3 separate regions of the Homo sapiens genome follow, and all the other regions are reported to be linked to region 2. The links are microRNA targets in miRTarBase. Many come from high-throughput screens and were not tested one by one. Region 2 holds a microRNA gene; each other region holds the end of a gene's coding sequence.
What was found. The annotated mature microRNA hsa-miR-4257 reads CCAGAGGUGGGGACUGAG and lies in region 2 at 804-821, opposite strand. An mRNA with a match to its seed (bases 2 to 7 or 8) in the 3' UTR can be bound and repressed. Matches are read on the target gene's strand: a 7mer-m8 pairs with bases 2 to 8, a 7mer-A1 pairs with bases 2 to 7 and ends in A, and an 8mer does both.

Region 1 (3,249 bases), not on the chromosome of region 2:
ATAACAAAATACCATGGACTGGGTGGCTTAAACCACAGAATTTTGCTTTCTTACAGTCCTAGAGGCCGCAAGTCACAGGCCAAGGTGCCAGTTGATTTGATTCCTGGTGAGGGCTCTCTTCCTGGTTTGCAGACGGCTGCCTTCTCTGTGTCCTTACCTGACAGAGAGAGTGCACTCTGGTGTCTCTTCCTCTTCTTATAAGAGCACAACTTCTATTGGATCAAGACTCTACTCTGATGACCTCGTCCAACCTTAATCACCTCCTTAAAGGCTCCATCCTCAATACAGTCACATGGGAGGTTAATGCTTCAACATATGGATTTTAGGGAGGCACAATCCAGGCCATTGCAAACATGGTAACTGGTTAGCTATGTCTGCTGTGGATGAAGGAAAAGGACAGTGTGGACTCAAATGGTGGCTTGAGCAGCATTGTGGGATTGTTAGGGACAGACATCATGTCTCATTTATATCCACCATGGCACCTGACCCATCCTGGGAACCAGAGTGTGACCACTATCCAGTTATCACCTGTGTCCAGTGCAGATTAGAACTTTGCAGGGCCTCAGCTGGGAGGGCCCTGGGCAATGGGAGCTGCTCAGAGCCAAATAAAGCAGGGCGTGGGCAGGCAGGCTTTGGTGCTCTGAGTGGGAGGCCACGCAAGCACTGAGAATGGGACAGGATGACCAGAAGGCAGCATGACCTCTTGCCCTGTGTCCAGGAGAGATGAATCCCAGGTGCTAGCCAAGAACACCAGAGAAAGAAGTAGAGGCCTCTGAAAGACAGGACCAGCCCATGTGCCCTGGCAAGTGTGCCTGTCCAGAAGGCTGCATTTGCAGGTCATGGACGCATGGGTTGAAAGGGCCAGGGTGTCCAGAGGCCAGAGCCCAGGAGCAGGGCCAGGAAGAGAAAGAGGAAAGCCTGAGGCCTGGGGCTAGACACGGGGCTCACCGGATCATGGGTCAAAAAAGTGGCTTTCAGGGTCAGACAGCCAGACCATCATCCAGGGGACATATCTCAGGGGGACAACTGGGACTCATCCTAGAGGGGTGGGTGGTGGAGCGAATGGGCATAGGAATCTTGCCTCCTTACCCTCCTTCCACCCAAACTCTGAGGCAGGTGAGCCGTAAGGTGCCTAGGCCTGGGGGTGGGGGCCGTGGGATGGGATTGGGGTGCAGCTCAGATAAACAGCCCTGGGAGCCACAAGCTGCCCCACCCAGCCCAGGCGTGGCCCTGCAGCCTCTGTGTTGGATTGGATCTAATTTCTGAGCCTCTGGACATCTGGGTCATATTTGGTTTGGTCTGTCCTGGTTCTCAGCAATGTCCTGACAACCACCACTTTGATCTTGACTGGAGAGCTGGGCAGCTGAGTCCTCAGTGGCCCTATTATGCTCCCAGGCAGAGCTCAGGCCTGCTAGCCTGCTCCCCCTCCCCCAACAGTCCCCAAGAACAGACGTGGGGCAGGGAATACTTGCTTTAGTCGAACTCTGGGGCTGCTTAAAAAGCCCGAGGCGCAAGAGGGCTCCCCGGGGGCAGGGTTTGGAGCCTCCCCTAGAGCTGCTGAACTGCTAAGAAAAGCAAACTCACACCAAGGAGGCAGGTGAGAGGCCGGGCGGGCACCACCTGCATCTGGTTTATTGTTCTGTTTTCTCCAAACTTAGCAGAGCAGAATGTGAGGCCACCTGGGGGGCGGCTGGGCCCGCTGCGTGGGGCCAGCCAGAGTCATTGTGAGTGTGTGGGGCCAGAGTCCATGAGACATCCACTGGGGGAAGACCCCAAATACAGGAGGCCTGGCACCCCCTCTTCTGCCTCCTCCATGCCCAAAGCCCCCACAGGGAGGCATGATGCGGCAAGCATGAGAGTGCAGGTCTCAAAGGAAGTGGGGGCAGCTGCGGGGCCAAGCAGCTGTTGGAAGCTCCACGGGAGCCTGGGCAGGCCTCCCGAGGCTGCGGGGCGCCACCCTTTCGCTGCAGAGAAGTTGGGATGCTGGGCCAGTTGAGATGGGTCAGATGCAAACAGGACCTTTCCAGGTCACTTCTCCCTGAGCTGTCCTCTTTCCCACGGTCCCCATCCCACGCTCCCCTCACTCAACAACCCTGGTCTGCACAAGATCCATCTCTTTCAGAGGAACCAAGACCCAGACAGTGAGGCCCAGAATCCCAGCACCTCCCTGCGATGCTGTCCTGCCAAGAGCATCTGCACAGTGCTGGGGCTTCTGACTACCCCAAGACAGGGAGGCGAGAGAAGCCTGTGGGGCTGCTAGCGGGGAGGCTTGAGCATGGGGTGAAGGCCTCTCCCCGTTCAGCTCACGGGTTGAGGTCCGCCCATGGCCCTGGCCCTGCATCTGTCTGTGCCACCATCCGGGGTGTGGCTGTGAATCCCAGAGGGACCTCCAGTCCGGGCTCCATGGGAACAGCTGCAGACCTGGTGGGGCGAGAGAGGGAGAGAAGAAGGTCGGGGAGGAAGGCTGGCTGCCAGGGGACAGGAAGCCACTTCTCTCTACCTGGTCAGCTTGGGTTACTGGGGTGGGCCAAGTACCTCAGAAAGCTGTCTAGATGGGCCCCGGGGAGGAAGACTTGGACCCCAGCTCCCCATCCCTGTGGGGCTGCTAGCGGGGAGGCTTGAGCACAGGATGAAGGCCTTTAGAGAGCAAGCACATCTCAGGGCCAGGTGGGGCGGGGGAGGCCAGACCCAGCCAGAGACCTACCGTAATTAGGAGTATGCCAGGCCCTGAAGCCCCCGGGCTGGAGAGTGAAACTTGTCAGAATCCTCAAAAGACTGGTCTGCAGTAGTCAAGGAAAAAGGAGCCATAAGCCATGTGCCACCTGGGAAGCCACCTGCCTGTCACTCTCTGGGCTGGAGACAGCAGGCAGGGGATATAGCACTTTCTGAAGGCAGTCAGCCATCCCTAGCCCTGGCCCATGGCAGCACTGCAGATCGGGGTGAGGGGTGCCTCTCAGATGCTCAGGGGATGCAGCCCACGCCCTTGCTCCCTACCTCCCTCAAGAGAGAGACGACCCCAGGCTCCTTCTCCCAGGGTGGCCTCCTTCAGAGGGCCCATCTGCTTCCTCAAGCGCATGGCCATGTACCAGGGCAGAAAAGGAAAGAGGCCAGCCTCCAGGAATACTGACTGACATACCCACAACAGCATCCTCTGTGCCTCCCACACCTACGAAGTTTGTCACTCCACCACTCCCCACCCCTACCTGACCCCCTCCCATGGTTCTCTTTGCTGGCAGGAGAAATTGGTGA
Region 2 (3,236 bases):
CGCTACCAGTCCAAGGTCACATTCAGCAGCAGAGGGAGAACTACACCTCGGCCTCTTGGTGTTATGAGGCAAGGAACTGGGGAGTTGGCAGGGGAGGTGGGTGGGCTGTGGGGAATGGAGGCGTGGCCTGGAGAGATGGGGTGGGAGCCTAGGGGGAGATGAAAGGGTGGCAGGCAGGCTGCAGCTGCTCACTTGTCCAGAACTCACCTCCTGATCCAAGCAGAGCTGAGGGAGGGACAGAAGCAGCAGCAGATACAGCCAGGGCCTGCAAACCAAAGGCCAGGGGAGGGACGTCAGACTGGAGCCAGAGGGGGTGTTGCAACACTGCCCTCCGCCCCCAGCCGGCTCCCATATCCTGACTACCAACTTCTCAGAAAGCAGAAGTTACTCATCACTTCCCCTGCCCCTCCCAGTGGTCCCCTTTCCCTCACTTCCAGACACAGAGCCATCCCAGCACCTCCCCTTTTCCTCCCCCCCAACCCGTGGCCCCTTCTCTCACCTGCCAGTCCAGTTCTCCATCGCTCCCCCTCTACTGCCCCAGGGGGAGGCAGGAGCGGACTGGTCACAAAAACTACGCAGGCATCTGGGCGTGGAGGGTGCTCTCTGCAGGGACAGAAGCCTGGTGGTTACCTCTCCAGTGTCCAGAGAGCTTGGGGCTGGGAGGACAGCTCAGAGAATATGGAGGAGGGGGTGAAACTGGTCCATCCCTTTAGGATCCTCAGGGTGGGAGCAGGGAGGATCACTGCCTTGTCCATCTGTAGAGGCTACATGGTCAGGGGCTGACCTCAGCCCTCCAACTAAGGCTCAGTCCCCACCTCTGGGCCCTGTAGGGGCTTCTTAGCTCCTCCCCAAATCCTACCTAGGGACTGTTTCTAAGCCGGCTCAGGCACACACAAAAGGCTTTTTTTTTTTTTTTGAGATGGAGATCTCACTCTGTCATCCAGGCTGGAGGGCAGTGGTGCCACCAAAGCTCATTGCAGCCTCAAACTCACAGGCTCTCCTTCCTCAGCCTCCTGAGTAGGTGGGACTACATGCGTGCACCACCACACCCAGCTAATTTTGGTATTTTTTGGTGGAGATGGGATCCAGCTAAATTGCACAGGCTGGTCTTGAACTCCAGGCCTCAAGCGCTTCTCCTGCCTTGGCCTCCCAAAGTGCTGGGATGACAGGTGTGAGCCACCGCACCCAGCCAGAGGGCTCCTTCTAAAATGGTTGTCATCTGCTCCCACTCCTGCCCTCCCAGAGGTGCCTAGAAAGTAGAGGAGGAAGGCTCCACTGAGGATGCGCCAGACACTCTCTCTGAGGACCCACCAGAAGCCCCTTCCTTGGGTCTTCCAGACACAAGACCTTCCCCAGTCATCTCTCTGTCCTACTTGCCTCCCGGCTTTCTCTTCCCTTCTTAGATAAGCTCTTTAGGGAACATCCAGGCACATCTCATACACTTTTTGGCCAAGGGATAAGCTAAATGGGTTGACGGTTTAATCTCTAGAGAAGAAGCCGGCAATGTAACACCCACTCTGGGTGCCAGCATCTGGAGTTGGTTCAGTGAGGGCTTGTTTCCTGTGCGTCTCTACCAGCTGGGGAAGCGGGAAGGAGAGGTGCAGCCGGGGCTGCCTCATGCCCCAGCCACAGGCCTCTCATTCTGAAGAGCCGGGAAGTCCATCTGAAGTTCAGCTTTGAACACTGGAGAAGTGAGGCTTGGAAGCCACCCCAGCCACCAAGCCTGACTCTCTTTGCCCCCTTCTTCTCACTTTGAGTCCTTCCCACCCCTGCTCCTCATCCCACTCTTAGTTCTGCTTTCCAGGAAAAAAAAAATCTGTTTCTGTTGGATCTGAAAGGCACCCGGGAGAGGAATCCAGGGAGCCCTCGCATTGCTGAGGTGGGCCAGCTCTGGGGCAGAAAATGACCAAGAGAAGGGTAGGAATGTGCCTGGGGGCAGACACTCAGCCCCACTGCCCTCCCTGAGACCTAGGGTTCGGAATTTGAGGGAGGGGTCAGAGTGGCTGAGCCAGAGCGGGCGCCTCAGGGATTGGGGTTGGGGTGGGGGTTGCCGATGGCCACTCCTTCCCCTGGCTGGGCCGGCCACTAAGGTCAGCAACTCCACCCTGACTGAACGGGGGAGGCCAGGATCTCCAGAGAAGGGCCCATGTTCCACCCAAGTCTTCAGGCTCTGCCTGACTCTTGTTACTCCAGCTGAGGGAAGAAGAAATGGGGTGATAGTCACTGCCTGCCCCTTCTCTGATGCCGACCCCTCTTCATGCCCTCTCTGCCTCTGCTTCTCTCTGCCACCGAGATCTCTTCTCGCAGCCCCTCTCCACGGGTCTACCCAGTACACATAATCCCATCCCGAGCTGGGTTTGGCTTTGGCAGTTCCCTGGAGAAGTGAGGGGTGGGGGTGACGTGAGCTCCCGGGGCCCGGGCCAGGCCTGGCTCCCTCTCTGGAAAAGTCCCACCCCACCCTCCCCTGCGCAGCCCGGCAGGGGCCCATGCCCCCTCCTCTGCAGAAACACACGCACATTTATGCTTCTCACCCCTTTCCATGTCCCTCATTTGGTGTCGTTCCCGGCCCAGGACGAGGAAAGGAGAGGTCAGAGGTGGTCACTCTGGTGCCAGAGTAGACCCTGGTCTGGACAAACGCGGGCTCCTCCTGGCCACACCTCTCCACACTGCCCAGTGAAGACCAAGGAACAGAGACCTGCGCAGGGCTCACCCCTTCACCCCCAGGTCTCCCTGCTGGAGAGTGGTTGGACCCTGTGTTTCTGGGCCTAGCCATGGAGAATCCCTGTCCTGAGTCCGAATTCCCGGGCCCTCAGAGCCCTCCACTCCTGGGTCTGGCAGGCCACCCCAACAGGTGTCTTTCTTTTTTGTCAACCTCTTCTGCCATCGGGCTGAGCTGGATCAAGGGCACCCACCTGCGTCCCTCGCGGCGACCCTGTCCTCCAAGTTCAGGAGTGCAGTGGGGGACACACCGTCCGAGAGCACCCTCCTAGAGAGAGGGCAGGAGGCACCGGCCGCGCGGGGAGGTCATGGGTCTGTTTTCCAACTTTACTATGTGACTTAGGAGGAATTTTGGTTCACTCCCCGCCCGGGTGATGGGGCCAGAGTTCCACGGGATCAGACTCCCTCCCCAGGAATTCGACCCCAGGGGCTGGAAGATTGTCCGAGGCCACCGGAGCTGGGTCCGGGGTCGTGGCGGGGTCGCGACCGCACAGCGCAGGGAGAGGGGACGACGCGGG
Region 3 (3,249 bases), not on the chromosome of region 2:
CCACAAGTCCAGGTGAGTGATTTTACACTTAAAGTGGACCTGCACAACTCTAAAAGGGGGAGGGAGATAGGCCTGGGGAGAAGTTATCTCCCTTCAGTCAGTTATCCAGATATTGCCAAATATCTCAACACAGTATCTGGCAGAACAAATACATAGAAAAATATTTTATATACATTATGCCCCATCACAATGGATAGCAAAGGATTAACTGTGCCCATGATCATGAAAGAGCTACCACTTCCACACTTTGGGCAGAGAGGGAGATGAAGTCCTAGGCTAATTAAATGATGGATAGGCTCCTCAAGTGTATGTTTTTCTAAGGGTTATCATCAATATGTGCACACTCATGGAAATGCCACCTTTCAAGCCACTTTAAAAACACAGGTAATAAGAAAACAAACTGATTAGTAAAAAACATTTGATTTCATAGACTCTGTTGCATGCAACCCAACTATTTCATAAGGTAAAAACAGTGCTATATTTTTGATAATGTCCCATTATCTTGCTTTAATACTATCAACAACTGCTTGTACAAAAGAAACAGCCATGATTGAATTCTGATTCTTTTTTTCTTGCTTTCTGCCAGAGTTTGCCAAGAACTGCTTTAGCCCCCAGCCCACAGCACTGTGGGGCTGCAAGGAATGCTCTATAGGGTCCAGGATTTTAAGAGTCAAGGCAAGAATGAGAGTAAGAAAAAAAAAAAAAAAAAGGAAAAAGGCTTACTTGGAGAGGCAGGTCAGGGACTCAGCACTTAAACAGGTTTGTAACAAATCCAAAGAGGAGAAAAGACATCTAAGAGAAATGTTCTTCCCTTCGGCAACATGATAAGCGAAACATATGTATAAAAAAATGTATAATTTCACCCAGTGGTGTGCTGATGAATGTTTATCAACCAGCAATCTGGAGAGGGAGAAAACCCCAATTTCTTACATATTGCTAATTTCTGTGGTGTAAATATTTCTACCATGGCCAATTTCAAGCCACTGTAGTAACAAGAAGGTAGTGAACATGGAGTTGAGAGGATACGTTCAGTAGCATACTGTTTGGTAATATTTCTACATACATACCTACTAGATGTAAATAATCTAAGAGGTTAGAAAATAGTAAAATGTAAGATTTTTGAGTACAGTATTTGTTACTTCTGTCCTTAATATAATTCATTCAGTTGTAAGTGCACATCATTTAATTTTAAATAATGGCTGTATTGAACAACCAGTTTGCAAAATTCTTGAAAATATAACAGTTGGCAAGCCTGTACAAGTTGACTCCAACACATCACACCTAAATGGGTGAAAGGGAAGGAAAAATCAGACTGAAAACCATAAACATTATTTACTATGTTTTTTAAATAGATAAGGAGATGAAGCCATAAACTAATTAAAGGATTTTCAGGGGCCAAAGGTGTTAGAATATTCTGCTTATGGTGTTCTCAAACATTAAAAAAATTTCAAGATAATGAGATGTTTCAAAGGACTTCAGAGACACAGATGTGGGTACTTACAATACAGGTAAATGTTCAATTTTACAAGGGCTATCTTAAACAGATTCCATGTGTTTTACAAGCTAAATAGAATAATATATTAATTATTTTCCTATTCACTTGTTTTATTGCTACTAGGCAACTCAGGAACACTCAGCTACTAAACAAATTCTGGAATTTGTTTAGTAACAAATTACAGAGAAAAGAGGAAAAAAAAGACAATGAATTGGAAGAAAGGGAGGGGAGAAAGGAGGAATAGAGGGTGAGTTGCCTTGGGCAGTGTCAGAATGTCACCAATCACAACCTCAGGCACTGACAGTTATCAGAGTTGTGAGCTTGAGCCAAAGGCTGCAGTCACCTGCTTCATTAGTTTAGCACTGCATTTTTACACCACTACATTGAAAGATTAATGCATACTACAATGCAACCATCTCACTTGTACTTTCACAGGCTTTGTCCTTGAGATGACATGCATCTGGATAAATAATTCACATTTTTCTCCTGACGTTTGCAAATGTCTGGATGGATCATATACTGTGGACAAAAATCTAGATAATTAACCTGAATGTTTATATTTAATCCAGTGATCTTGTTACACTAAAGACAAAGCAATAAATGCTTCTAAAATTTGCCAAAAAATGCAATCATCTGCATCAGACAGCCTTGATTAAGATACAATATTGTTGTTTTATTCAGGAATGTACTGTTTTAAAAGCTTCTCTCTTACTAAAATTTAGAAAATTTCTATCATGTTTGAAAAACTTTAAAACAGCTTTGTAAATAGCCTTTAAAGTCATGTTAAAGATTCAATTTATGTTGAATAGTCAGTAAAAGTAGGTGTGTAATTCATTTTGCTACCTGTGAGTCTGGCTTGATGCTACATTTGTGGGTTAATAAATAGACTTCTTTGCTACTGTTTTAAAGTGTCATAATGTTGTCTTGCTTTATGAAGATGACACTACTGATCTCCAATCAACAGGGCATGTGCATTTACTGATTTTTCTGGAACTAAGAGAGAATTTGTGCTAAATTGGTCACATTTTCACATGCAGTGAAAGATTGGCAATACTAACTTCTTATGTGGTCAGTAGAACACTTCTGATGTATTTAGCCTAACTCAAAGCTATGCATGTAAACAGAGATAGGCCTCTATCATAATCACAGTTACAAACACATATTATACACTAAATTCCTTTCAGTGATTAAAAAAACAAGTTCATGTAAGAAAGCAAGACAACCCAATAAGAAAGTGGTTAAATTCATTTTCCATGTCGTCACTCTCTAAAATCTGCATCGGTCCATTTGTCAAGTTGCCAGAAGTGCCCATGAGCAAATAAAACAATTGCATATATTACAAAATCCAAGATAAATAAGTAGTGCTAAAAAAGAATAACAATTAAATTATTAGTTATGTGGTTAACGGAAATGAACGAACTTTGATAAAATGGTCCTGATGGGGAAGAAGAAGAGTTTTTGTTTTTCAATGGCCATACCACAGTGAAACTTCACTTCTCCTCAAGGAAGTTTACCTTCGGTCTGCTTCAACTCTCTTCTTACGAACTAGGTAAGAAAGAAAGGAACAAAAAGACAAATTGAAGGGATATTCCTTAAATTCCAGATAAACAACATTAATCACATAAGATGACAATCTCACACACTTGAGGATACAGTTATCTTAAATTTTAATACTTAACCATGACAATCAATGGAAATGATAAATTCATCCAGTGTCTGGTGGAATTTACATTTAAATACATATATGTCTGATA

Region 1: miRTarBase lists EBF4 as a target of hsa-miR-4257. Seed matches in the 3' UTR shown: 7mer-A1 at 2,119-2,125.
Region 3: the mRNA of TMOD2 is a reported target of hsa-miR-4257. The part of its 3' UTR that is shown has no 7-base or 8-base seed match.

The regions. Positions count from the first base shown.
Region 1 is chr20:2,758,440-2,761,688 of GRCh38, reverse strand. It overlaps EBF4 (EBF family member 4), which reads right to left. Exons shown (of 17, transcript NM_001395167.1): 16 at 2,705-2,780; 17 at 1,581-2,421. The coding sequence ends at 2,710. Among named protein-coding and RNA genes, the nearest start is that of CPXM1, 41 kb to the left of the region's middle. RefSeq lists an enhancer at 1,705-2,355.
Region 2 is chr1:150,549,572-150,552,807 of GRCh38, reverse strand. It overlaps MIR4257 (microRNA 4257), which reads right to left and starts at 879; the gene lies at 794-879. It overlaps ADAMTSL4 (ADAMTS like 4), which reads right to left. Exons shown (of 19, transcript NM_019032.6): 2 at 2,913-2,986; 3 at 500-603; 4 at 208-265. The coding sequence starts at 519. LOC124904417 reads right to left here and starts at 2,518. Exons shown (of 1, transcript XM_047438226.1): 1 at 1,458-2,518. The coding sequence starts at 2,518. The coding sequence ends at 1,748. The region is part of intron 5 of ADAMTSL4-AS2 (ADAMTSL4 antisense RNA 2); the gene reads left to right. RefSeq lists enhancers at 146-1,015, 1,505-2,194.
Region 3 is chr15:51,808,211-51,811,459 of GRCh38, reverse strand. It overlaps TMOD2 (tropomodulin 2), which reads right to left. Exons shown (of 10, transcript NM_014548.4): 10 at 1-3,040. The coding sequence ends at 3,006. Among named protein-coding and RNA genes, the nearest start is that of TMOD3, 20 kb to the left of the region's middle.